Linked DNA regions of Homo sapiens. The protein of the gene in region 5 purifies or fractionates together with the protein of the main gene of each other region. This does not show direct contact. Each region holds a gene or a part of one and is shown on either strand. Other genes may lie near its edges. The genes, in order: PLXNB2, AGPAT2, ATP8A1, CA2, SLC37A2, ADCY3 and COX15.

The links.
Region 1: the proteins of SLC37A2 (region 5) and PLXNB2 purify together in Homo sapiens (affinity purification with mass spectrometry; one large-scale study listed by BioGRID and IntAct). This does not show direct contact.
Region 2: the proteins of SLC37A2 (region 5) and AGPAT2 purify together in Homo sapiens (affinity purification with mass spectrometry; one large-scale study listed by BioGRID and IntAct). This does not show direct contact.
Region 3: the proteins of SLC37A2 (region 5) and ATP8A1 purify together in Homo sapiens (affinity purification with mass spectrometry; one large-scale study listed by BioGRID and IntAct). This does not show direct contact.
Region 4: the proteins of SLC37A2 (region 5) and CA2 purify together in Homo sapiens (affinity purification with mass spectrometry; one large-scale study listed by BioGRID and IntAct). This does not show direct contact.
Region 6: the proteins of SLC37A2 (region 5) and ADCY3 purify together in Homo sapiens (affinity purification with mass spectrometry; one large-scale study listed by BioGRID and IntAct). This does not show direct contact.
Region 7: the proteins of SLC37A2 (region 5) and COX15 purify together in Homo sapiens (affinity purification with mass spectrometry; one large-scale study listed by BioGRID and IntAct). This does not show direct contact.

The regions. Positions count from the first base shown.
Region 1 is NC_000022.11:50,280,147-50,283,646, forward strand, and holds part of PLXNB2 (plexin-B2 isoform 3 precursor), read right to left. Parts: coding exon 3,456-3,500; intron 3,300-3,455; coding exon 3,191-3,299; intron 3,041-3,190; coding exon 2,904-3,040; coding exon of another isoform or gene 2,858-2,903; intron 2,736-2,857; coding exon 2,565-2,735; intron 2,405-2,564; coding exon of another isoform or gene 2,168-2,404; coding exon 2,038-2,167; intron 1,936-2,037; coding exon 1,708-1,935; intron 1,597-1,707; coding exon 1,420-1,596; intron 1,354-1,419; coding exon 1,214-1,353; intron 1,044-1,213; coding exon 943-1,043; intron 828-942; coding exon 598-827; intron 525-597; coding exon 343-524; intron 1-342.
Region 2 is NC_000009.12:136,675,051-136,677,457, reverse strand, and holds part of AGPAT2 (1-acyl-sn-glycerol-3-phosphate acyltransferase beta), read left to right. Parts: coding exon 1-35; intron 36-321; coding exon 322-497; intron 498-777; coding exon 778-873; intron 874-2,407. UniProt on the Homo sapiens protein: Converts 1-acyl-sn-glycerol-3-phosphate (lysophosphatidic acid or LPA) into 1,2-diacyl-sn-glycerol-3-phosphate (phosphatidic acid or PA) by incorporating an acyl moiety at the sn-2 position of the glycerol backbone.
Region 3 is NC_000004.12:42,409,106-42,412,605, forward strand, and holds part of ATP8A1 (phospholipid-transporting ATPase IA), read right to left. Parts: 3' UTR 1-3,500. UniProt on the Homo sapiens protein: Catalytic component of a P4-ATPase flippase complex which catalyzes the hydrolysis of ATP coupled to the transport of aminophospholipids from the outer to the inner leaflet of various membranes and ensures the maintenance of asymmetric distribution of phospholipids.
Region 4 is NC_000008.11:85,474,007-85,477,506, reverse strand, and holds part of CA2 (carbonic anhydrase 2), read right to left. Parts: intron 3,184-3,500; coding exon 3,091-3,183; intron 1,710-3,090; coding exon 1,647-1,709; intron 388-1,646; coding exon 232-387; intron 1-231. UniProt on the Homo sapiens protein: Catalyzes the reversible hydration of carbon dioxide. Can also hydrate cyanamide to urea. Stimulates the chloride-bicarbonate exchange activity of SLC26A6. Essential for bone resorption and osteoclast differentiation.
Region 5 is NC_000011.10:125,080,305-125,083,804, forward strand, and holds part of SLC37A2 (glucose-6-phosphate exchanger SLC37A2), read left to right. Parts: intron 1-309; coding exon 310-476; intron 477-1,116; coding exon 1,117-1,154; intron 1,155-1,449; coding exon 1,450-1,602; intron 1,603-1,939; coding exon 1,940-2,030; intron 2,031-3,500. UniProt on the Homo sapiens protein: Inorganic phosphate and glucose-6-phosphate antiporter. May transport cytoplasmic glucose-6-phosphate into the lumen of the endoplasmic reticulum and translocate inorganic phosphate into the opposite direction. Independent of a lumenal glucose-6-phosphatase.
Region 6 is NC_000002.12:24,822,738-24,826,237, forward strand, and holds part of ADCY3 (adenylate cyclase type 3), read right to left. Parts: intron 3,393-3,500; coding exon of another isoform or gene 3,390-3,392; coding exon 3,308-3,389; intron 1,800-3,307; coding exon 1,641-1,799; intron 619-1,640; coding exon 472-618; intron 1-471.
Region 7 is NC_000010.11:99,712,748-99,715,127, forward strand, and holds part of COX15 (heme A synthase COX15), read right to left. Parts: intron 1,972-2,380; coding exon 1,840-1,971; 3' UTR 1,218-1,839; coding exon of another isoform or gene 1,059-1,217; 3' UTR 733-1,058; coding exon of another isoform or gene 667-732; 3' UTR 1-666. UniProt on the Homo sapiens protein: Catalyzes the second reaction in the biosynthesis of heme A, a prosthetic group of mitochondrial cytochrome c oxidase (CcO). Heme A is synthesized from heme B by two sequential enzymatic reactions catalyzed by heme O synthase (HOS) and heme A synthase (HAS).

The DNA.
Region 1 (3,500 bases), on a different chromosome or scaffold from region 5:
GGCCACCCTTGCGCCAGCCTCGCCCCTGTCCAGCCTGGGTGTGGCCTGCAGCGAGGACTACCTGGTGGCAGCTCCAGCCCTTGTGGGAAGTGTGCCACCTTCCTTCTGTTCTGCAGAGGGCTGACACTGTGACCAGCTGAAACCGCTGGACAGGAAGGGCTAGAGTCCGGCTTTGAGTTTGTGGCCGGGGACACCACCCCTAGACCGCCCCCCACCACCAGCGCTGGCTGGCACCTGCCGGCTCCTGGGGGCCCAACAGGCCGCTGTGCCACCCGCCACCAGCCCCAGAGCCCCTGCGGCCGCCCCGCCCGTGGCCCCGCTCGTGGCCCCGCCCATGTGCACCTGCGCAGCATCAGCTTGGGGTTCTTGGCCACCACGTACTGCTCCAGGAGCTCCAGGAAGAGCGTGTGCATGATGTCCGTGTAGTACTCCAGTTTCCCGTGCAGCGCCACCGTCAGCAGGGACGCGAAGTAGACCTTGGCGCGGGCCGAGAACTCCCGCTGGTTCTCCAGGGTGTGGATGAACTGTAGGGGCCGGCGGTCAAAGCCTGCCCGGCGCCACCTGTGTGCCCTCCCGCCCGCCCGACGCCTGGCTCACATTGATGAGGAAAGACTTGCTGTTCAGCAGGTTGGAGAACTGGTAGAGGGCCTGCTCCACCACCGGCCGCCGCGGCTCAGGGATGTCCAGCTTGCCGGTGATCATCACGTCCTTGTCGCCGTCCTTGGAGGGCAGGAAGAAGACGCGGTCGGTGTAGGTCTTGTAGTCCAGCACGGGGATGCCGGCCTCGTGCACGTCGTTGGTCTGGTCCTCCATCTCGATCATCAGGTCTGGGGGGAGGCTGGCGTGAGACGTCCCTGGCCACGTGGGGCCCTGACCCCCACGCTACACACAGCATCCCCGCCCCAGGAGGCGCCCCAGCACCAGCCCCCAAGCGGTCCCTACCTGTGAATTCCTTCTTGCAGCGGTCCCGCACGCTCTCCTCCAGGCCCTCCAGCTGGGACTTGATCTTCTCATACTCTCGTTCGGCCTGCTGGCTCTTCCTCCTGCAAGGCACAGCGGGCCTCCTAGGTTCTGCCGGGGCTGGCCGCTCAGCTGCCCGGATGAGGAGGTGGATCTACACGCCTGCCTGTGCAGGGCGGCGGATGAGGCCAGAGGGGCCGAGGCGGGAGGGCCGAGGGCTCAGGGTGTTGGCACAGCCGGGGGGCGGGCTCACCAGTAGCAGTAGACAGACACCGCGATGACGACCACCATGGGCACGATGACCAGCGGCAAGATGAGGCTGAGCGGCACGTCGCTCACCCGTGTGTCGTACTCCACGCGGCCCAGCACCCACTCGCGAGAGCCGAACTTCACCTGTGTGGGGGGCCGGGTTCAGCGCGGTCCCGTGGGGGCACCCCCCGCCAGTCCCCGCTCACGCACAATGAACTCGGGCAGGTTGTGTGTGGTGTCTCGTTTCTGCCGCCGCTTGGGCGGGGGCTGCACCTCCGGGGGCTCACAGTACAGGTCGGTCTCCGTCAGCGTCTTCATGGTGCAGCGCTCGGCACCCACGAAGGCCTCGGCCTCCTGCAGCGTCATCGCCTTGTTCAGATTGGTGCCCTGGGGAGGCGGCAGTGGTCGGGGTGAGGAGGAGGGAACCAGGGACAGGTGGACCAGCTCTCAGCCCAGACCCGAGCAGGACCCAGACACCCGGGGCTGCACCGTCCTCACCCGGGCGTGGATGAGCTTGTTGACCTGCTTCTTGACGCCACCTGTGAAGTTCTCAAAGGTGGGGTCAGGCACGTACTCGAAGGCCCCGGCCTCTGTTCTGAGCAGGGCACGGTGCCCGTCCATCTCGATCAGCACCGTGAGGTTGTAGGCCTCTGGCTCCTCAGGCACAGCCGGGGACAGGAAGACGACCTTGGTGTCATTGTGGAACACGTAGTCTGTACCCACCACCTGCAGGCAAGTCCCAGCTGTCAGCCCCCGGGCGCAGACCCCGCCCTTCCTGGGCACGATCCCATGGGCCGGTGCCAGAGCTGAGCCCACGCCAGGACTGACCGTCATGGGCTGCAGGGATTCAGCCTCCCGCGGCGGCTGCCAGGACTGCAGGGGCTCCGCGATGACCACCATGGCAAACCTCTGGATCAGGCTGAAGCCCTGACCCGTGACGTTGATGCTGCGGCCACCACTGCGGAGGGCAGTGCCTTCGTGGGCTCGGCTGGCAGGGGTGGTCCCTGCAGCCTCCGCCCTCCCGTCCCCGCCCACCCTGGCCCTGACCACACGGGGCTTCCAGGTGCATGTGTGGGTCTCGGTGGGCAAAGGGGCAACGCGGTGGGACGTGCTGAGCACGAGACTGTGCCGCAAGTGGGCGGGGGGCACACGGGGCCTGGTGAGCGTGGAGCCTCTGGTGTGCCCATCTGGGTTTCTAGGAGGAAGTGGATCTGGAGTGCAGTGGGGTTTTCCGGAGGCCGCCTCCCGCTGCACAGACCAGCCCCACCACATTCCTTTCAGCACAGTCAGCCAAGGGCACTGAGGAGGCAGCTGGGTGTGGGGAGCAGAGGGGGGCGGGGGGACACCAGCCTCACCTGGCAAAGCTTCGTAGCGGCTCGAAGGCTCGCAGTACGGGGTTTTCGCGGTAGGTGAAGAAGATGCCGGGGTTGGGCACGGGGGACCCCCCGTAGGAGACCTCCAGAAGCATCTGGCCCCGTGTCGCCTGGGGGCCAGTGACACACTGGAGCTGCGCCCCAAACTTCGTCCTGGGGGAGGGAGGGTGCTGGTCTGCATCAACCCCTCCCCCGGGACCAGCCCCAGCCCGACCAGGCTGGCCCCGCCATCCCCTCAGGGCCACTCAGGTCTCAGTAAGTGCCCCCCTCCATACCCAGGGCCAGGGCCAACCAGACTCAGCAGCTGGCGGTGACACCCACACTTTACACGGGACGCCGTTGAGGGTCACCCGCACGTCCTCCTGGGAGCCCGTGTCCAGGTGGGTGCCGTGGATGGTCAGTGTGGTGCCGCCCGCCTGCGGTCCCTGCTGCGGCTCCACACTGAGAGGCTTGGGCTGCTGAAAGAGCCGCAGGGGCACTCGGGTGAGGACGGGGCACAGGACGCCCTCGGTCCTGGGCTGGATGGTAACTGTCGTGGGGAGGCGGCGGGCAGAGCCCCTCCTCCCGGTCCTCCCGGGTTCGGCAGGTCCCCGAGGCCGGGTGCTTACTTGGAAGGTGAACTGGACATTGGGAGGCGAACGGCCCAGTTTCCCGAAGACGTCCACCTCGACACCCCCCGTGAAAGGCGTCTCCGCAGCCTCGATCACACACACGATCCTGGCGGGCGACAGGCAGTGTGGCCCAGGCACTCCCCGACCCACCCCACACCCTGACACCCTCACCCCCTCAGCCTCCCCACCCACCCAGTCACCCGGAACCCCAGCGTGGGTACTGACCCAGCTGACAGGGCCCAGACCAGGGCCGTCCACTCACCGGGTGGACACGGAGTAACGTTCCGGCTGAAAGGAGCAGTTCCGG
Region 2 (2,407 bases), on a different chromosome or scaffold from region 5:
CGTCTCCAACCACCAGAGCATCCTGGACATGATGGGTAGGCCGGGCCTCGGGGGTGGCTTCTGGGGTTTGAGTGGGGCCGGCTGAGCTGGGGCTGTGTGGGGCTGGGTCCCGGGGACGAGGACACAGGGCTGCCTGTGCCTGGGCGAGCTCGGCCTCAGTACCTCCCTCAGGGCCAGACACAGAGGCTCGGAGGCCACACGACCCGTCCAGGTAGCCAGGGAGAAGGCAGGGTGCCAGGCAGGCCTGTGGGTGCTCAGCAGCTGTCTTCCAGCGCACGCTGTCTCCCCCTCTCTCTCTGTCTCTGTCTCTCTGTCTCCCAGGCCTCATGGAGGTCCTTCCGGAGCGCTGCGTGCAGATCGCCAAGCGGGAGCTGCTCTTCCTGGGGCCCGTGGGCCTCATCATGTACCTCGGGGGCGTCTTCTTCATCAACCGGCAGCGCTCTAGCACTGCCATGACAGTGATGGCCGACCTGGGCGAGCGCATGGTCAGGGAGAACGTGAGTGTGCAGGGCCGGGCTCGGTGGGGTTGGGGTGGGGCCTGGGCGGGGCCAGGCAGGGGCCAGCTTGTGACTTGGTTTTGGCAGAAAAAACAAGACCCCCACATCATCCATGCTCCGCAGGTGGGGTCCCACGCCAGACCCCTACATCATCCATGCTCCGCAGATGGGGTCCCATGCCAGCTGCTTTGCGAAGTGGGGCTTCTTAGGAGGCGAGGCGGCGTGGCCTTTCTGGGGTGGCCTGGGCGTGAGGTCAGTCCAGGCTCTCCTCTCCCTGCAGCTCAAAGTGTGGATCTATCCCGAGGGTACTCGCAACGACAATGGGGACCTGCTGCCTTTTAAGAAGGGCGCCTTCTACCTGGCAGTCCAGGCACAGGTAGGCTGAGCCCAGCCCTCCCTGGGTGGGTGCAGGCTGGGGAGGCGGGGTCAGGCTGGCTTAAGGCAGCAGGTGACCACCAGCCGAGCTGAGGACCCTTGACACACAAGGGACTCCTCCCACTGAGTTGGGGACAGGGCCTCCTTGCCCCTTCCTGCACTTGCCCCCTGACCGACCAGGGAGGGCAGCCCCTTGGGCCTTTTGCCCACACAGAGCCCAGAGTGACCAGCTGCCCTTGGTGGGCACCCAGTGCTTGGCCTGCGAGGCTGGGCAGGTAGAGGGGTGGGGAGCCGGGCCGCTCGCCTCTGCTGCAGAGCTCTCAGGAGGCTCATTTCTGGGCCTGTGCCTGGCTGGGGTGGGCTTCAGGGCATGGGCAGTGGGTCTGGACAAGCCAGGCTTTTGGTGTAGTATCAGGCCAGACCAGAGCTCAGGGTGGGTGGAGCTCATTGTAAGCAGCGCCTCCAGACTCTGGACTTCCTGGTCCCCAGCCTCCAGGGGTGCAGTGCATCCTAGGGTGTCTGGGAGAGGCCAGGGTATAGCCATTCCCCCAGCACCTGTCCTGCCTCTGCCGCTGTGCTGGGAAGAGTTGCGTCAGGAGAAGGAGCTTTTACCCATCTGGGTGGGGTCTCGCTCAGGGCAGGGGTCTCAGCTCCTTCCCTCACACTGGCCACTAGTGGCCCCCAGTGCCTGGCCCTGTGCAAGGTGGTGGGGAGGGGGCCCTCCTTCCAGAGGCTCCCAGCTAAGGCCGTGAGGCCTGGGGAGCCCCGGAGGCGCTGGGCTGGGTGAGCATCCTTGGGCTCTGATCCCAGCCCTGCCCAGGTGCGGGGCACACCTGCCCAGCCTGGGGCTGATGTCACTTCCCTTTGGGGGCAGAGTGAGGGCTGGATCAGCTCTGGGAGAGCAGAGGGGAGACGGGCGGCTGTGATGGGGTGGCTGGGGGTGGCCGCAGTGCAGCTTCAGCCAGGAGACCCACAGCTTTTCCGTCCCTGCTCCCGGTCCCCAGCCTACCTGCTGGCCCCCTCCCTCCCTGCTGCCAGTCCCCAGCCTACCTGCTGGCCCCCTCCCTCCCTGCTCCCAGTCCCCAGCCTACCTGCTGGCCTCCTCCCTCCCTGCTGCCAGTCCCCAGCCTACCTGCTGGCCTCCTCCCTTCCTGCTGCCAGTCCCCAGCCTACCTGCTGGCCCCCTCCCTCCCTGCTCCCAGTCCCCAGCCTACCTGCTGGCCCCCTCCCTTCCTGCTGCCAGTCCCCAGCCTACCTGCTGGCCCCCTGGAGGTTCCCTGGCTGCCTCGGGTTAATGATCACCCCCAAGTGCCCTTGGATTTGACCCCGGTGACTTCCAGGAACACCAGCAGGCTCCACCCCTCCCCCGGGCTAGGGCTGCCTCCCTCACTGGCTTCCTGAGATGGAGAGGACTGGGAGAGAGGCGTGGGCAGGGAAGAGTGCCATAATCTCCTCCTAAACCGGACAGGGCCCTGCCCCCCTGGCTAGCTGCAGACCCAATATGGGGACAGGTGTGAACCAGGCAAACACGTGCT
Region 3 (3,500 bases), on a different chromosome or scaffold from region 5:
ATTCCAGGTAGGCCGTGATAGAACTTTACAAGGCAGAAATAAACATCAAGATTTACAGCAATAGCCATGCATTGGCCTGGATCACTTTAAATATGAACTCATGCAAACCATAAACCTATCAAAAACACAGCTGTTCTCATACAGAAAGTAAATCAAGACGAAATATGGAAAACATTTATTTCCTTTCCTTCAAAATTTAACTTACATTCCACTTTAATAGCTGTTGAAGGTTAATTAAAATGCAGCAAAGTATAACTACGTTACACAAGTGACTTCAGTTATTTTAATGTGAGAAAAATCAGACTATGGTATCTTACGAGTCATTATAGAAATGTTCATCATTAAAAAGCATTTATTAGGCACTGAACTGCATGATGTTACCTTAAGTCATTTACAAAAGAATTCCTGGTCCATGTGATGTGAATGGGCTGGGCACTTTCTCCATAAATTTTGTAGATGACTATTTGTAAGATTATACACTTAATAGGTTTTAAAACCAGGAACTATCAAAGGGCAACTGCACAAAAATAAACACGATTATTTAGCTTTGTAGTAATTATGACATTGTCATAATTTTAAAACTATGAATAATACAATCTATTACTTTCTGACTAGCATTCATTTCCCGAGAAAACATTTTAAATGACAAGTTGTAAGTGTTGTACAGTGCACGCAATGCAAAACAAATTATCATGTGACTTTCACATTGGATATTTAGAATGCTGAACGGCAAAATTAAAGTATAAAATTTAATGATCAGAATGCTGACTGATTTCCATAATTCATTTCCCCTCTGGAAATTAAAGAGGAATCACTGATTCCATTTAATGACCATACAATTCATGTAAATGGCTAACATTATTTAGCAGAATACACATTCACCTGACTTGATTAGAAAAAGTTTTCCATTAACTTAGCAACACTGCTGAAGCAGTCTCACATTAGAGCACAGAGTGGAGGTGGGAGGACGGGAAGTACATATATCATTTAAAATTTACAACGTTCCTGAGAAACACTGTTTTCCTAATAATATCTACAATATAACATCTTTCTGGGTGTGAGACACCAATATATTTTTATATGTATATATAAAACATTTAGAAAGTCCATGCTCAATACCACTGTATACTATTCAACATTAAAGAAGCAACTTCCAGCTTTTCAATGCTAAATGAATGAGGATTTTCTATTATAAGTCGTATTGTCTGAATTGTAAACATTGTAAAGCAACTGTGTTAGCATTTGCCAGAGTCCCTATAAGGAACTTTTTAATTGAAGAGTACGTGCCCTTTATTTCAAAAAAACACATGTTAAAAGTCACATTGACTGTTTATTTCAATCCTGGTAAAACCATGTGACTTTTTTCCAGTTAAGGAAGGTTTAAAAAATCAGACTATTTTCTCTAATTTAACACTGTAAAGTCACTGCAATTGCAATGTTATATTTTAAGTTTCACCAAGAAGGTCATTCCCTGTCCCTCAAACCCCAAGTCTCACCCAGGAAGCAAAGAGACTGACAATGTCAATAATTCAAAAACAGGACGATGGGACAAAGAGGCTCAAATTAGTCACATTTCAGATCATGTTACACATTATCAACCGTAAGTATTCTTCTCATGTTTAAGAGCTCCACAGAAACAATCCACGTTTCAAGATTAAAATAAAACTTACATTTTTAAGTCAGAAAATCCAGTTCTATTATATCCATAATGTTTTTATATTAAAATTCTGCAGAAGGGTGCCACTGATGAAGTGAGCGCAAACAGAAGCAGCTCTTCTCTATTAACAGAATTAAACACTACAAAGTGTTTCTCTGGAGGGGTGCATTTCACTCTTGCTTTCTTATTTTTTGTGGTTTGACCTCAGCTATCACCACTGGGAAGCCCAGGAAAAGCTGCTCTGAATATTCATTCACTGGACAGGTAAAGACTGGGACTTCAGAATTTTGAAGACGATCTTAGACTCTTACACCTGTGGTCTTGCTAGATGTGTTGATTCATGACTCTCTCAATCTGTACCCCAAACAGGAAGGGCTTGGGAAGTAAAGTATGTAAACGTGTGTTCCCTTAAGGTTAGAATTATGTATATGTGTTATAACCTCTTATTTGTAGAAAATGGAGAGGCATACTGGTAACTAAGGAGCTACAAATACAGACAAGGAAATGACATATATCCTAATTTTAAATCTAGATTGAGAAAAAGGGTGAAAAGAATGTGAAAATATTAAACTCGAGAAGCGATCTGAAAAAAAATCACCTCTTCTCAATTCTAGTTGACTTTTTTTAAAAGAGAAAGTTCTACCTATTTTGCTGGTAAGTCCATGTAAAGGCAAGCAGGCTTTTGAGTAAAAGGCAAATAGTTTGCTTCAATCTCTGAAGTGTATCTGAAAACTAATTCCTTTTTTTCAAATGAAAGTATTATTTAAAAAATAGTGTAGAAAACTGGTTGTGGTTTTTAAACAGCCCCTTCATTTACTGTTGGTAGCAAAATAGCCATTTTCAGATGTCTTGTAAATGCTGAAAATAATTGAACTGAAGATACATTTTAAAACATACTAACAAAAGCTACTCATGATGAACGTGTCCTCTGACTGTAAAGTTACCGGCCTGAGTAAAATCCGCATTTTTTAAATGGGGAAAATGTACTACCTATTTGTCCCAATAAGCAGCATGTGACGAATTTTGGGAACTATTTGATGAGTGAACTGTGAAATAATTTTCAGTCTTCAGTATAGGGGGCAGTCACCATAACACTGGGTGTGCTACACAAGACACAGGCATCTCTAGTGGGAACTGGAACACAGGACAAAAGCCCATGCATTTATCTGACATGTTATTCCAAATATTGCAACAGAAGCTTTGGAAATCCCACGTAAATACGTAGCATATGTTTCTTAAGAGGAAAAACTTTAAGACAAAATGACATCACTCAATCTACTGCATTAGCCAGATTTTTAGAAAAATCTAAATGATGATGAAACTTCATCAGAAATACCTGAAACATACATAGTTTGAAAAATCAGTGTCATAACAACAGAGTCACATTAACACGTGTGTCCTCTAACAAATAAACACGACAAACAACAAAGAAGCATTTGTAAGGCCAAAGGTGCAACATCACCGATTTTAGTAGCAAATGCCTTGAAATATTCATTTTTGTAAATCACTCTTACATTTGGAAAGTCAGGCATGCAGATCTTACAGCGGAACTGGAAGTAAACTTTCTCTTACATTTCTGGGCATATGACTACTGAACTAGAAAAACACTTACTGAACCTCTTTGGCAAACATTTATCAAGACAATTTTGGACACAAATGCTTGTTTAGAAATTTTGCTCAGGAAGGTGAGTCAGTTCCTTAAGAATGCTGGTTTGTTTCAGCATATCCTGAAATCTAAGTCTGGATACCAAGAGTCCCTTTAACTAAATATCATTTAGAGTTTTTTAATGGTTGGTTACCTTGTGGTACAGCCAATAAACTGACAGTCAGTTACAGCCCCACA
Region 4 (3,500 bases), on a different chromosome or scaffold from region 5:
CTTACAATGACTATTCAATTTTAGAGACTAAACGAACTAAGTTTATAGTTAATAACAACAAAGATTTACTGAACGCTGTTTATTTGCTAGGCACCATCAAAGGCACTATTTCCATAGCAAGAAGTAGCAGGAGAAGGATTAAATCTCAGTTCTCTCTCACTCTGGAGGCCAAGGTCTTCTGCCTTGACTAAATGCTCCACCCGTAAACAGACCTGTCATTACAAAACAAACCTGCTCGCTGCTGACGCTGATGGGTTCCTTGAGCACAATCCAGGTCACACATTCCAGAAGAGGAGGGGTGGTCAGTGAGCCTGGGTAGGTCCAGTAATCCAAGGATTCAGGAAGGAGGCCACGAGGATCGAAGTTAGTGAAGTCAGCACTCTTGCCCTAGAACAAGGCAAATACGCAGCTTCAAACTATCACATTGACAGAGTAGGAGGAAGGTAGGAGAGCAGCAGACACAAATAGGTATACTCCCCTCTGATGGTCAAAAACACTTTTTAAAAAAGAGGTTCTATATTCACTGGCAAACAAAATAAAGAGAAATTAACAGAAGACATTCAACTTGAAAATATGTGGCAAGTCGTAGTAAAAAAAAAAAAAAACTATTTTCACATGTCCATTTTTCATCTTGGCCTTTTATCTAAAATGATCCCTTACATTCCCCATTAAGTCATTAGCTGATCACACCCAGTATTTAAAGTGAGACTGCTGCCACTAAAATGAGGTGACTTCAAGTTGCAATAACAGAAATATGGTATCCTGATGAGGAGGTGATTTTCTTGCTCTAGGTCAGAATCAAATAACTACATTCTGTTTTGGACACTACACTTTTCAAGCAAACAGGAATGATTTACTGGAAGAATGACAAGGTGGTGGCAAAGAGAGAAAACTATATCATATGAGAATAGTTAAAGGAAACTAAAGATAATTAGTTTGGGGTAGGTGAAAAAACAAAGTAGAGACAGAGTAGAGTTATTTGGAAGAGAGATCAGGTTTATTCTATGAATTCAAGGGGCTCAAGCCAGTGAGTGAGCATTTCAGAGGATAGATGCTGCTTCAATGTGAAGATCAGCTTTATAAAGCCAGGGCTGCCCCTGGTGATAAGTTCCCCATCACCGGAAGTGACTGTAGTGTTTAAACAGATGCTCAACGACCTCAACACAACTATGCTGCAGAGAGGATTTAAATGCAGGATGGATGAATGCAAAGAGGTCATAGAATAGAAATCTCCATGAAACAGGGCCTTGTTTATCTTGTTCACCATTGTGTCTACTAGTTTGCAAAGCGACTGGCACATAGTACATACTTAACAAATATCTGCTGTATGAATGAGTGAATAATTTGACTAGAGGACCTTTGAACCTCCTTGCAGGCATAAGATTCTCTGACTCTTACATATGGATGTCCAAATGATGGGGGAGCAAGATTAAATAAATACAAGTCTTAGAATTATGCTAGCATTAGGATCAACTTTGTTGAAAGAAACGTTAATTAAATATTTAAGTAATATTCTACCTTTACTAACTGCTCATCCAAACACCACATGTCATTGAGACTGTGCAATTTGATCAAAAGAAATTTCTAAAACCAATGGAGTATTGAAAATTGGTACCCTAAGGAGGTGGCAGAAAATTCAAATTTACCTTTGTTTTAATGGAATCCAGCACATCAACAACTTTCTGAAGGCCCGGTTTAGCGCTGCCAACCTAAAGAAAAACATAAAGGGCAAGATACTATCACCCAGTTGGTACTGTACCAGTTTTTATTTTTATTTGGGTAGCTCTATTAGAAAACATCCAAATAGTGAGCCCAAATTCTCCACTTCATACATGACCCCCATCAGTACTGGCTTGATGACACTGACACCATAGACTTGCCTACTTTCACTGAATCTTCAACTCGCCTCTAATTCCACTCAGAGAGTAGTCCTGAAACCACCAGCTCAATTGTCCCCAGTGACCTCTAACTGCCAAAGGATACTCCTCAAGGGCTTGCCTTGATTTCCTTGTAGGACTTTACACTATGGTCTTCCCTTCTTTTTAAAAATTATTTTCTTCTTTGGCTTTCCCTACGCCTTCCAGCAACCCAAATCTCTCTTGACTCTCGCTTTTTTTTTTTTTTTTTTTTTTTTTAGAGTCAGAGTCTTGCTCTGTCATCCAGCTTGTAGTGCAGTGGCATGATCATAGCTCACTGCAACCTCAACCCCTAGGCTGCAGTGATTTTCCTGCCCTGGCTTCCCAAGTAGCTGAAACTACAGGTGTATACCACCATGCCCAGCTAATTTTGTGTTTTTGTTTTTGTTTTGTTTTTTTGTTTGTTAGTTTGTTTTTTATGCCCAGCTAATTTTTAAAAAAATTTTGTAGAGATGGAATTGTGCTATGTTGCCCAGGCTGGTCTTGAGCTCCTGGCCTCAAACTATCCTCCTGCCTTGGTGTCCCAAGGTGCTGGGATTACAGGCTTAAGCCACCACACCTGGCCCCTTTTAAGTTGTTTAATTTGCATCTCTCCCCTTGTAAAGGCCTTACATTTTGCAGTTTCTCAGGATTGCTCCCTGGGCAGATTTCTCATCTCCCTCTTCGTGCTGTACTTGGATGATTTCATACACACCTGTAGCTTCCACCTCAACATATGAATCAGAGCTCATAAATCTCCAGCCCAGACCTTTCTCCATTCCCCTTTACCACTGTTTAGAGGGCAGCTCAACCGGTTCTGTCCCACTGTTGCCTGAAATTCACTGTCCTTCCCCTCTTCAGAACCTGATCTTACTTTATCATAATATAGTACTGTCTAGCCTCAGGTTAAATGAAAAGAAAACAAACAAACACCTAGCAGTCACCCAAGTTGATCTCTTTATGTTCTTCACATTTACATCCAAAAGGTACCAAATAAGTACCTCTCCTATTGTCTTTCTGCCCTCCATCTCCACTGCAACTAGCAGATATGAAAGGAGGAGATAAACTTGAAAACATTTCAGGGACAAAGGCATTTCCTAAGCTCTTTTGTAGAATGTCCTGTATGTTACAAATACTCTGTCTGGTCATTCTTTATTAAAAATAGGGAAAAAAAAGAATTGGGTCATCAACTAACCTTCAAAAAAATACCTAGAACGGCCAGTCCATCAGGTTGCTGCACAGCTTTCCCAAAATCCCCATATTTGGTGTTCCAGTGAACCAAGTGAAGCTAAGGCCGAAGAGACAAAGCCACAGTGAGTGATTTACATAATCAAAGCTGACAGATTTTATTCAATGGTCTTTTTCTCACAATAAAGGTTACTCAGGAAATTGAAAATATGGATAATTTTAAATCAAAATTTTCCTTTCATTTTAATTCTAATCATCCACACAGTACTTGGTATAACAGCAAGTGTTTTCATCAATAACTCTAAGACAAATAAATGTACAGTTTTGACAGAAGGCACACATTTTATTTCTAAATTTCTGTTAAAACAGGATCCTCCAGTTTGAGTCCGTTTACTTTTTGCAAATGGTGGAGTTGGA
Region 5 (3,500 bases):
GAGTGAGATCGTGGGACAGAAGAGAAGAACGAGGGCCGGGGCCCCCATGCCCTCAGTGTGGCTAGAGCTCCCATCGGCACTCACTCAGGGAGCTGGGCAGGCGGAGCGAGACCACAGGCCCTGCAGCCACCTGCTTGACACCATCCAAGGTCTCCCACTCCTTGCTGACTTGGGGCTTTGGGGCTGTCTTTGGTGCCTCGGGGAAGCTGTAGTCAGCCCAGCTTTAGAGCTTGGCTGGGGCAGTTGCTATGAACAATGTGCTTTGCTTTTTACTTTTTATACCTCTTCCCTTCTCTCCCTCCCTTCCAGGCGGGGGTTCATCATGGGCATCTGGAATTCCCACACATCTGTGGGCAACATCCTGGGCTCCCTGATCGCCGGCATCTGGGTGAACGGGCAGTGGGGCCTGTCGTTCATCGTGCCTGGCATCATTACTGCCGTCATGGGCGTCATCACCTTCCTCTTCCTCATCGAACGTGAGTGGGCCCCTCACTCCCCACAAGTGAGCCTAGAAGTTCTCGGTTTCTGGGAGAAGGCAGCTGGATCTACTGGAAAGATTGCTGGTCACAGAGTGGGAGGACCAGCCGTGTGACTTTGGACAATCTTTCAGAGCCTTTATTTTCTCATTTGTAAAATAATAATAGTAATAATAATGTCTATTTCGTAGGATTTCTGCAGGCTTAACTGAGACACCATAGTTAAAATGCCAGGCCCACAGGAGGTGCTTGGCAAGCATTGGTTGAATCTGAGAGGTGTGATCAGGGAGGGTGGAGTTGAAGGGACATTGTTACAGTGACCAGGCTCTCCACTTGCTGCAGGTGGTCTTGTGCACTAGCCAGGCCAGGTATGAGAGCCACTCTGTAGCTAAGAGTACTAAAGTCCAAGAGGCAGTAGTGACACTGCTGGTTGTTAGGAAAGCCAGGCCTAGAAAGCTGTCTCCTGAGCCCCAGGCCCCGCTCCCTCCTGCTGGGACACACACTGGCCACCTTAGGAGCTGGAGGCGGGGCTGGTTCCCGGGATGGCTTAGATCCAGTGCAAGGTGAGGGCCTGGCAATCACCTCGGGATTGGGGGGGCGGGGGTTGGGAAACTTCTTAGAAAGCGATTTTTTTTTCTAGACCCAGAAGATGTGGACTGCGCCCCTCCTCAGCACCACGTGAGTGTGAGCCCTCCCAGCCCTATCCCTGCCCTCCAACTCCATCCAGAGGGCTGGACCCGGAGAGGCCTGGGGAGCTAGAGCAGGGAGTTCTGGCCCTCACTGACCTCACCGACCCAGTGCTAGGCCCATGGGTTGGCCCTACAGCCTGATGAGTCTGGCAGGTCAGTCCAGCCCGAGACGAACGTGTGCCTCCCCATCCTGGGAGCCAGTGTCTCTTGCCTGGGCTGCACCTTCAGCTGGTGGGAGGCAGCACATGGACGCACCCACAGCAGGGCTCATCTCCTCTGCTCAGGGTGAGCCAGCTGAGAACCAGGACAACCCTGAGGACCCTGGGAACAGTCCCTGCTCTATCAGGGAGAGCGGCCTTGAGACTGTGGCCAAATGCTCCAAGGGGCCATGCGAAGAGCCTGCTGCCATCAGCTTCTTTGGGGCGCTCCGGATCCCAGTAAGAAGTTTGTGGAATGGAGGAAAGAGAGGGGCTTTCCAGATTTTTTCTGTTGGTGATGAGGAGATGGGGTGCTTGGGTGATCTATTTTTCTAGAACTTCTTTATAGGGGAGGTGTAAGTTGGGCAGCCTGCTTGGGGAGGGCAGTGTGGGAGATTTGTCTTGAAACAACCTTGCACAGTGGTCATGTTGCTTTTATTGGGACTGGATGTGTTGGAGGCTGCCTTGTGTGGCAGGTGATGGAAAGTACTGGGGTGGTGCTGAGCACCCCTTGGGGCCACCACTGAACCCAGGACCTCTGGACCCCTTCCCATGTGCCCCCTGTTGCACTCCCCAGGGCGTGGTCGAGTTCTCTCTGTGTCTGCTGTTTGCCAAGCTGGTCAGTTACACCTTCCTCTACTGGCTGCCCCTCTACATCGCCAATGTGGGTAAGTCCAAGAGAAGGGGAATGAAGGGGTCTCTGAGGAGGCCAAGGCTGCCTCTGGTGGGAGAGGAAGCCCGTCGTGGTGATGCCTGTGATTCCAGTATATAGGCAGAATTCCTGCTGAACCTCTCCTAGAGTGAAAGGAGCTTGATTTAGTTGTTTACTTAAATGAAAGCTAAACCCAGCAAACTACCCCCTAGACCCTGACTCCAGCCACCTTTTCTCCCCTTGGAACTGAGCTGGGGGTTAGGAACTCAGAGCTCTGTTCTGCAATTCTTGCTATCTTCTTCTCTAGCCCTTAGTGTAGGAGAAACCCCCTCCAGGCTGCTTGGCTCATAGGTGGTAGCATTGGAGGTGCTAGGGAAGGCCTGCCTGCTAGATCTCTCCCCCAGCCCAAGGAAGAGGGCCTGGTGAGTGACCCCACTCCTTGTAGCCTGGTGGTGACCCTGGTGGTCTTCTCCCCGTGGGACCTAATGTGATCGATGCCCCTGTGCCTGGATCTGCTGGGCTGCACTGGTGTTCTGTCCTGTCTCATGGACCTACTCCCGTCTGCTCCTGCCCAGGGATGTATAGATGAGAAGAGCTCATTTGAAAAAGGATGTTTCATGTCCACCTGGCCTGGGTCTCTGCTTTTCCATAGGTCAGGCTGCTCTACCAAACAGCAGCCCACCCCGCCCTGCCCAGCCCCCAGGAGCCTCCAAGCTCCACCAGGGCTGAGGGCCTGTCACCCAGTACTGCTGCCCTCCCTCCCAGCCCTGGGGAGGAACAACAGTGCCTTGCCACACATTGTGCTCGCTCTGAACAGGATACTGTAGGAATTAGTCATGGCCAAGTTCAAGCCATAGCTTGCCCCGCAGCTCTGTCGGGGCCTCTCTCGTGACAGTGTGGAGCACTAGGGCAGCTTTGTGGACACCGTGACTCTTTGTTTTGTGGCCTTGGTGCTGACTTCAGAGTATGAGGCACCCTCGAGGGTGGGGCTACAATCTCAGCTTCTGGACATTCCTTTTTTAAAACATGGAGCCAAGGCCTGTGACCTGAGGCCCCTGTGTCCCTGCAAGTCTCCTTCCTGGCTCTGTGTATGAGCACAGCCTAAGGTAAACGGGAAGAGTTCCTAGTGCTGCTAGGGCCGGAGTGAAGCAGAGAAAGGGCTGGGCTGAGCTTCAGGTTGCGCTCCAGGGGAAAGGTGGCCACGGGACAGCAGGCTCGGGGGCCAGATCCCAGAGCTTGCCAGGGAGGGCTTGTTCTGAGAGGTGAAGGTCATCCTGCAGGGGAAGAGGGCAACACAGGACGGGACCAAGAGGGCGTCTATCCAAACTGCTGCATTCTCACCCTGTGGCCCTGGCCAGCCTGCTCCACAGGTCCCCAGCTCTTCCTCGGAAAAGGGGGCAGTGGTCTGGATCACGCTCTGCAGGGCTTCTAGCTGTGACACTCCAGGATGTTTGCCCCAAACCCCAGGTCTGACCACATACCTGTA
Region 6 (3,500 bases), on a different chromosome or scaffold from region 5:
CTTTCCTATCAAAGTTGTTACTTAGTCTACCGCTTATCTGCCACATGATCCTGGGAGAACTTCCTAACTTTCTGGGCCTGTTTCCACAACCTCAACACTGACATAAAATCGGCAGTCTCCTAGGGGGGCTCCGCGCGTGTGTAAAAGCATTCTCCCTGGTATACAGGTCACCCAGTCAATGCTGACCGGCTCTGAATTTGAGGAGACAGTCCCAGGACAGAGAGGTCTCGAGATGTTGCTTGGCCAGTCCTTATCCTTATCCTGTGACCCTGTGGGTGATTTCCCGGGCTCCCACCTCACCTCCCCTTCCCCAGCCCAGCAGTTCCAGGTGGCTGCAGAAGTCCATGTATTGCGGAAGGGGCTTATCTGGGAAAATGAAGCCAGTTTCTCTGGCCTCTGCAGCCTATTGTAGGATGTGATGTGGAATGGGCCGGCTTCATGGCCAGAGTGCAGGGTGGGATGGGCACTCACAGAGTCAAAATCTGAGATGATTTCATTGAGGAAACGCAGACACTCAATACCACCATTGTTGATGCTCTCCTCTGTGTAGAAGTCAGCAAAGTTGGGCAGGGAGGCAAACATGACTCCAATCTCATCATACGTCTGGCTATACAGCTCCTAAAAAGAGGTGCGGACAACGTGCTCAAAGCATGTCCGACTGACTGGATGATGTGTTGGAGAAATGCATCTATCTTCCATGCATGACATGTGCACTCAGCTTTTTGGACTCACACATCAGTCAGATTATTCCAGCATTTTTTTTTTTTTTTTTAAGAGTGGGTCTTGCTGTGTTTCCCAGGCTGGAGTGCAGTGGCAGTAAACAAGCACAATTAGGTATGATCGAAGCACACTGCGGCCTTGAACACCAGGTATCTGGGACCACAGACACATGTCACCATGCCCGGCTGTAGATTATTCCAACTCTGAATAATTTAAAAATAGCTCATCGCTACTTTTTTTTTTTTTTTTTGAGAGATGGAGTCTTGCTGTGTCACCCAGGCTGGAGTTGAGTGGCACAATCTCAGCTCACTGCAACCTCCACCTCCCGGGTTCAAGTGAGTCTCCTGTCTCAGTTTCCCGAGTAGCTGGGACGACAGGTGTGCACCACCGCGTCCAGTTAATTTTTGTATTTTTTAGTAGAGACAGGGTTTCACTATTTGTTGCCCAGGCTGGTCTCAAACTCCTGACCTCAGATGATCCACCCGCCTCGGCCTCCCAAAGTGCCGGGATTACAGGCATGAGCCACTGTGCCCGGCCACTACTTTGAATAAATTTTAAAACAGCTTCTCTAGTTCCTCTAACAGCCCCAGCTGTGAAGACGAGGGTACCGTAGAGCTGGGAACCACTCTGTTTGGAGAAGTTCACAGGCAACAGAAAGGTGGGCTCTAGCCAAAGTCTTGTCTTCTGACACATGGCCTCAGAGCTGTACGGCCCACATCACGATGCCTACAGCAGTGCACTTTATAAGAGGCCGGAGAAATTCCTCTTTTGCTTATTTGTGTTTGCTGTTTAGGTTCAGCCCTACCTAGGCCCCAGTCCCCTGTCCCTGAGAAGGCCTGGGCCCAGCGGGGGCTGCCTGAAAGAAAGAACAGATGGAGACAAATGGCCTCATGGTTCCGGGCTGAGACCACACCCCTCACCTCATCTCTCTTCTTGGACCCCAGGAAATGGCGTGCCACGTGCTCAGGCAACATGTTGGTGACCAAGGCCTCGTTCCAGCGTCGCATCTCATAGACACGTTCCTTCTGGTCGTGGACCTCAATCTTCCACAAGAAAAGTGTCCGTGCCAGTTTTTCTACCTACAGACACAGACAAGGCGAGGCATGTGCTCTAAGCTGGCCACTGGATAGAAGGATGAAAAACAGGAATGGCCAGGCGTGGCGGTTCATGCCTGTAATCCCAGCACTTTGGGAGGCCGAGGCAGGCGGATCACCTGAGGTCAGGAGTTCGAGACCAGCCTGACCAACATGGTGAAACCCTGTCTCTACTAAAAATACAAAAATTAGCCGGGCATGGTGGCGGGCACCTGTAATCCCAGCTACTCGGGAGGCTGAGGCAGGAGAATCAACTTGAACCCAGGAGGCAGAGGTTGCAGTGAGCCGAGATCGCACCACTGCACTCCAGCCTGGGCAAAAGAGTGAGACTCAGTCTCAAAAAAAGAAGAAAAACAGGAACGTGAATGGAGGAACTCCCCTTGGAAAGGCTGGAAGGAAGATGGCTAAATGGCAAGGGAAGTAAGACCCTGCAAAGATTGCACCTCATCAAAAGGCCACCCAATAGTGGTGCGGTTCCCAGCCTCCGTAATTACAGCAGAGATCCAGGAGGCCTTCCGTGTGTAGGGGGCCTCTTGGGACCTAATTTCAGCTGCAGGTCTGTCTCGTGGAGGTGGCAGCAGTGGGGATCTCCCAACTCAGGGTGGAGTCCCCCTTTCTAGCAGGCGCCATTTGGGTAAGAAGTGGCTTGGGAAGGCTGTACTTCCCTGGAAAGCCAGTAGGGGGCACTTGAACTAACATTGGGCCCTAAGTACAGAGGATCTTTCTCTTCCCTCTCTTCCTTCTCTTTTCCTTTTTTGTCCGGTTGAGTGCGGTGGTTGTGGCGGGGGGGGGGGGGGTGCGGGGGGGGTGTCTCACTTTGTCACCCAGGCTGGAGTGCAGTGGTGTGATCTCAGCTTACTACAGCCTCAACCTCCTAGATTCAAGCAATCCTCCTGCCTCAGCCTCTCAAGTAGCTGGGATTACAGGTGCGGGCCACCATGCCTGGCTAATTTTTGTATTTTTTAGTAGAGACAGGGTTTCACCATATTGCCCAGGCTGGTCTCAGACTCCTGGACTCAAGTGATCCTCCACCCTCAGCCTCCCAAAATGAGCCACTGCACCGGCCTTCTCTTTTCCTTTTAACCCAACAGAAAGTCCATCAGCTCCCTTCTCTTTCTCTTCTGGCTCTGTGGTCAGTTGTGTTAATGTCCCTCAGCGCCACGGGGAGTGCGGGGGCCATGAGCCCCTGGCCTAGGGGATATTGATTTGATTCAAGATGTTTGTGCCTTCACTCTATCCCCTCCCACCTTCACTCCCATGCTTCCTTCACCATCCTGGAGGGGGTCGGACGGAAGAGGTGAGGAACTGTCTTCCTGTGTGACTGAGGAAGGAGCCTGAATAGAGAAGGCGGTGGCCTGACCAGGCTCACGTGTGGGGCTGGGTGAAGGGAAGCCCCATTCCTTAGGAGCTTGGGCTCTTAGGTCCCAGGGCTGCTTCTCAGGAGGCCCTGTGGGCTGTGGGCACAGAGCGGGGATCGTGCAGGCGGCACTCACGTGGCGGGAGAAGTAGTAGAAGCTGAGCATCATGAGGAACACCATCACCGTCATAGAGTACTTGGAAGGCACCAGGGGCAGCCTGCTGGGCAGAGCGTGTGCAACTGAAAGGGCTGTCATCTGCCTCCTGGAGGGGGCCTGATTCCCTCCAACTAGATGGTGCTGCTTCCTGCCACCCCAGCCCTAGAGCTCA
Region 7 (2,380 bases), on a different chromosome or scaffold from region 5:
TCTCCATCAGCCTGACCCCAGTGAGCATTTGATTTGGTCTACCCTACTCTTGCCTTCTACAGAACTAAAACTAACTTCCTGCAACTTTCATCCATTGCTGCCAGCTCTGCAGCATAATGGAAGCTCATTCCCTCTTCTGCATGAGACGGCTTCAACTTCTCAAGGACAGGAATCTTGCTCTCTCTCCAGATGTTCTCTGCTCCAGTTAAATATCCCTAGTTCCTTCACCTATTCCCTGTGTGACAGGGGTTCTGGACTCATCATTCTGATCTCTTCTTCTGGATACACACTTAGTGGCCATCAATATCTTGCTTAAATTTGGTACCCAGAGTGAAATGCAGTATGTTAGGGGTATTTTGACTATGGCTGTGACACTTCTACTGATAAAACCTGAAGTACCACTAATTTTTCTGTTATCATATAATAACAACATGAATACTACTTGGTTCATATTGAACCTGAGGACAACTAAAATCCCGTCTTTTTTATATGAAATGATATAAGGCCAGGTTTCTTCAGCCCAAACTTATACAACTTATTTAATTTAAATGAGTATGTTACATTTCTAATCTGTTTAATTTCATCTCGATGGGGTCATTCTGGGACTGTTTTCAGTTGCCACTGTCATCTATTATATTAGCAATATTGGGTTGCTCCATCCTCAAATCAGATGTTTCTGATGCCTTCATCCAAATCACTGATTTTAAAAGTAAAGTTGAATAAGACAGGGCCCTATGAAATATCAATAGAGACCAAAATCACATTAATTCAGCAGTCAACAATTTGTTTATCTGGGTAGATGTCCATGCACTACACCATCAAGGCCATATTTTTCTTATTACAAAGCTGTTAGGAAACCCTCTCAGGAACCAATTTATACTGTCGATTCCATTCCTCTCTCTGACCTTGTAATGTTAACAGCCTTATCAAAAGAGGAACTAGCTGGGCGTGGTGGCCCATGCCTGTAATCTCAGCACTTTGGGAAGCCGAGATGGGCGGATTACCTGAGGTCAGGAGTTCAAGACCAGCCCGGCCAATGTGGTGAAACCCCTTCTCTACTAAAAATACAAAATTAGCCAGGCATGGTGACTTGTGCCTGTAGTCCCAGCTACTCGGGAGGCTGAGGCATGAGAATCGCTTGAACCTGGGAAGTGGAGGTTGCAGAGTGAGCTGAGATCACGCCATTGTACTCCAGCCTGGGCAACAAGAGTGAAACTCTGTCTCAAAAAAAAAAAAAAAAATGGAACTATTTGGCGATTACCTCCTTTTCCAAGTACTTAAAAACCATTTTGCTACATATACACATTAAGCTTGTCAAAATCTGCAATTTCCCCATTTCTGAAAATCAGGATATTAGAAGACATTAGCTTTTTTTTTTTTGCTGAAGACCAGCTGGCTACTTTGGGTATGTCAATCCTATCCTTTCAATCTTCACCTAATGGAAGTGAAGTTAAGATCATAAAGAAATTCTATTTAGGCAGAATTAAGGACTCAGGAGAACATCCACGTAGAAATCATCCACGTAGAACCAAGAGCTTGCCAACACTGAAAAACCTGACACAAAGCCTGTTAAGCAGCAAATGGCAGACATTTCTTTCTCTACATTAAAACTGATTTTCAACATGAAAAGCAGATTTAAAAGGGAACATTTAGGGTAACCACACTTAATGCATTCTTGATCCAGTGACTATCTCAAAACAGGAAAAGATTTTTAAGTAAGTTGACCATTTGGAAACCACTTGGTATGTCAAGGTCATCTCGTAGAAAAGCCCAAGTTCTTATGATCTCTGAAGAGCTCTCAAAAGCAGTCACAGTCCCAGGAGGCTGGTCCTCTAAGAATCATTTTGGGACTCTTCGGAGTTCATTCATCAGCCAAAGAGCACCAGTGAGCAAAGCCAAGGAGCCTGACTGGTGAGTGGCGGCCAGAGGAGTTGGGACATACATCAGCAGCGTGCTGATGCCCAAGCCCACCTGTCACAAAGGAAAGAAGGCAATAGGAAAGGCAGTAACCCAAAGTTCACATTGAAAATGGCCAGGCGTGGATAACCACACACAAACCTCCACATCCTCCTATCAGAGCACTTAAAATACACACATTTTTAATTTCACAAGCAAATATGCTTACAATGAAAGAAATTCGAACAAAATTGATAAACCTAAAATTCCCCTTATTCTTCAATCCATCCCAGTTCCCCAGAGTAGTCACTGTTACCAGTTTCTGCATACTTGTACTTTAGTATGTTTATAGAGAAATAAATATATAGTTTTGTGCTTTTAAAAAACATATTGTTCTGTCACTTGCTTTTTTTCACTTAGCAATATACACTATGTATTGAGATCTTATTAAACTGCTGTGCAGTATCGCACAGTATGGATATAC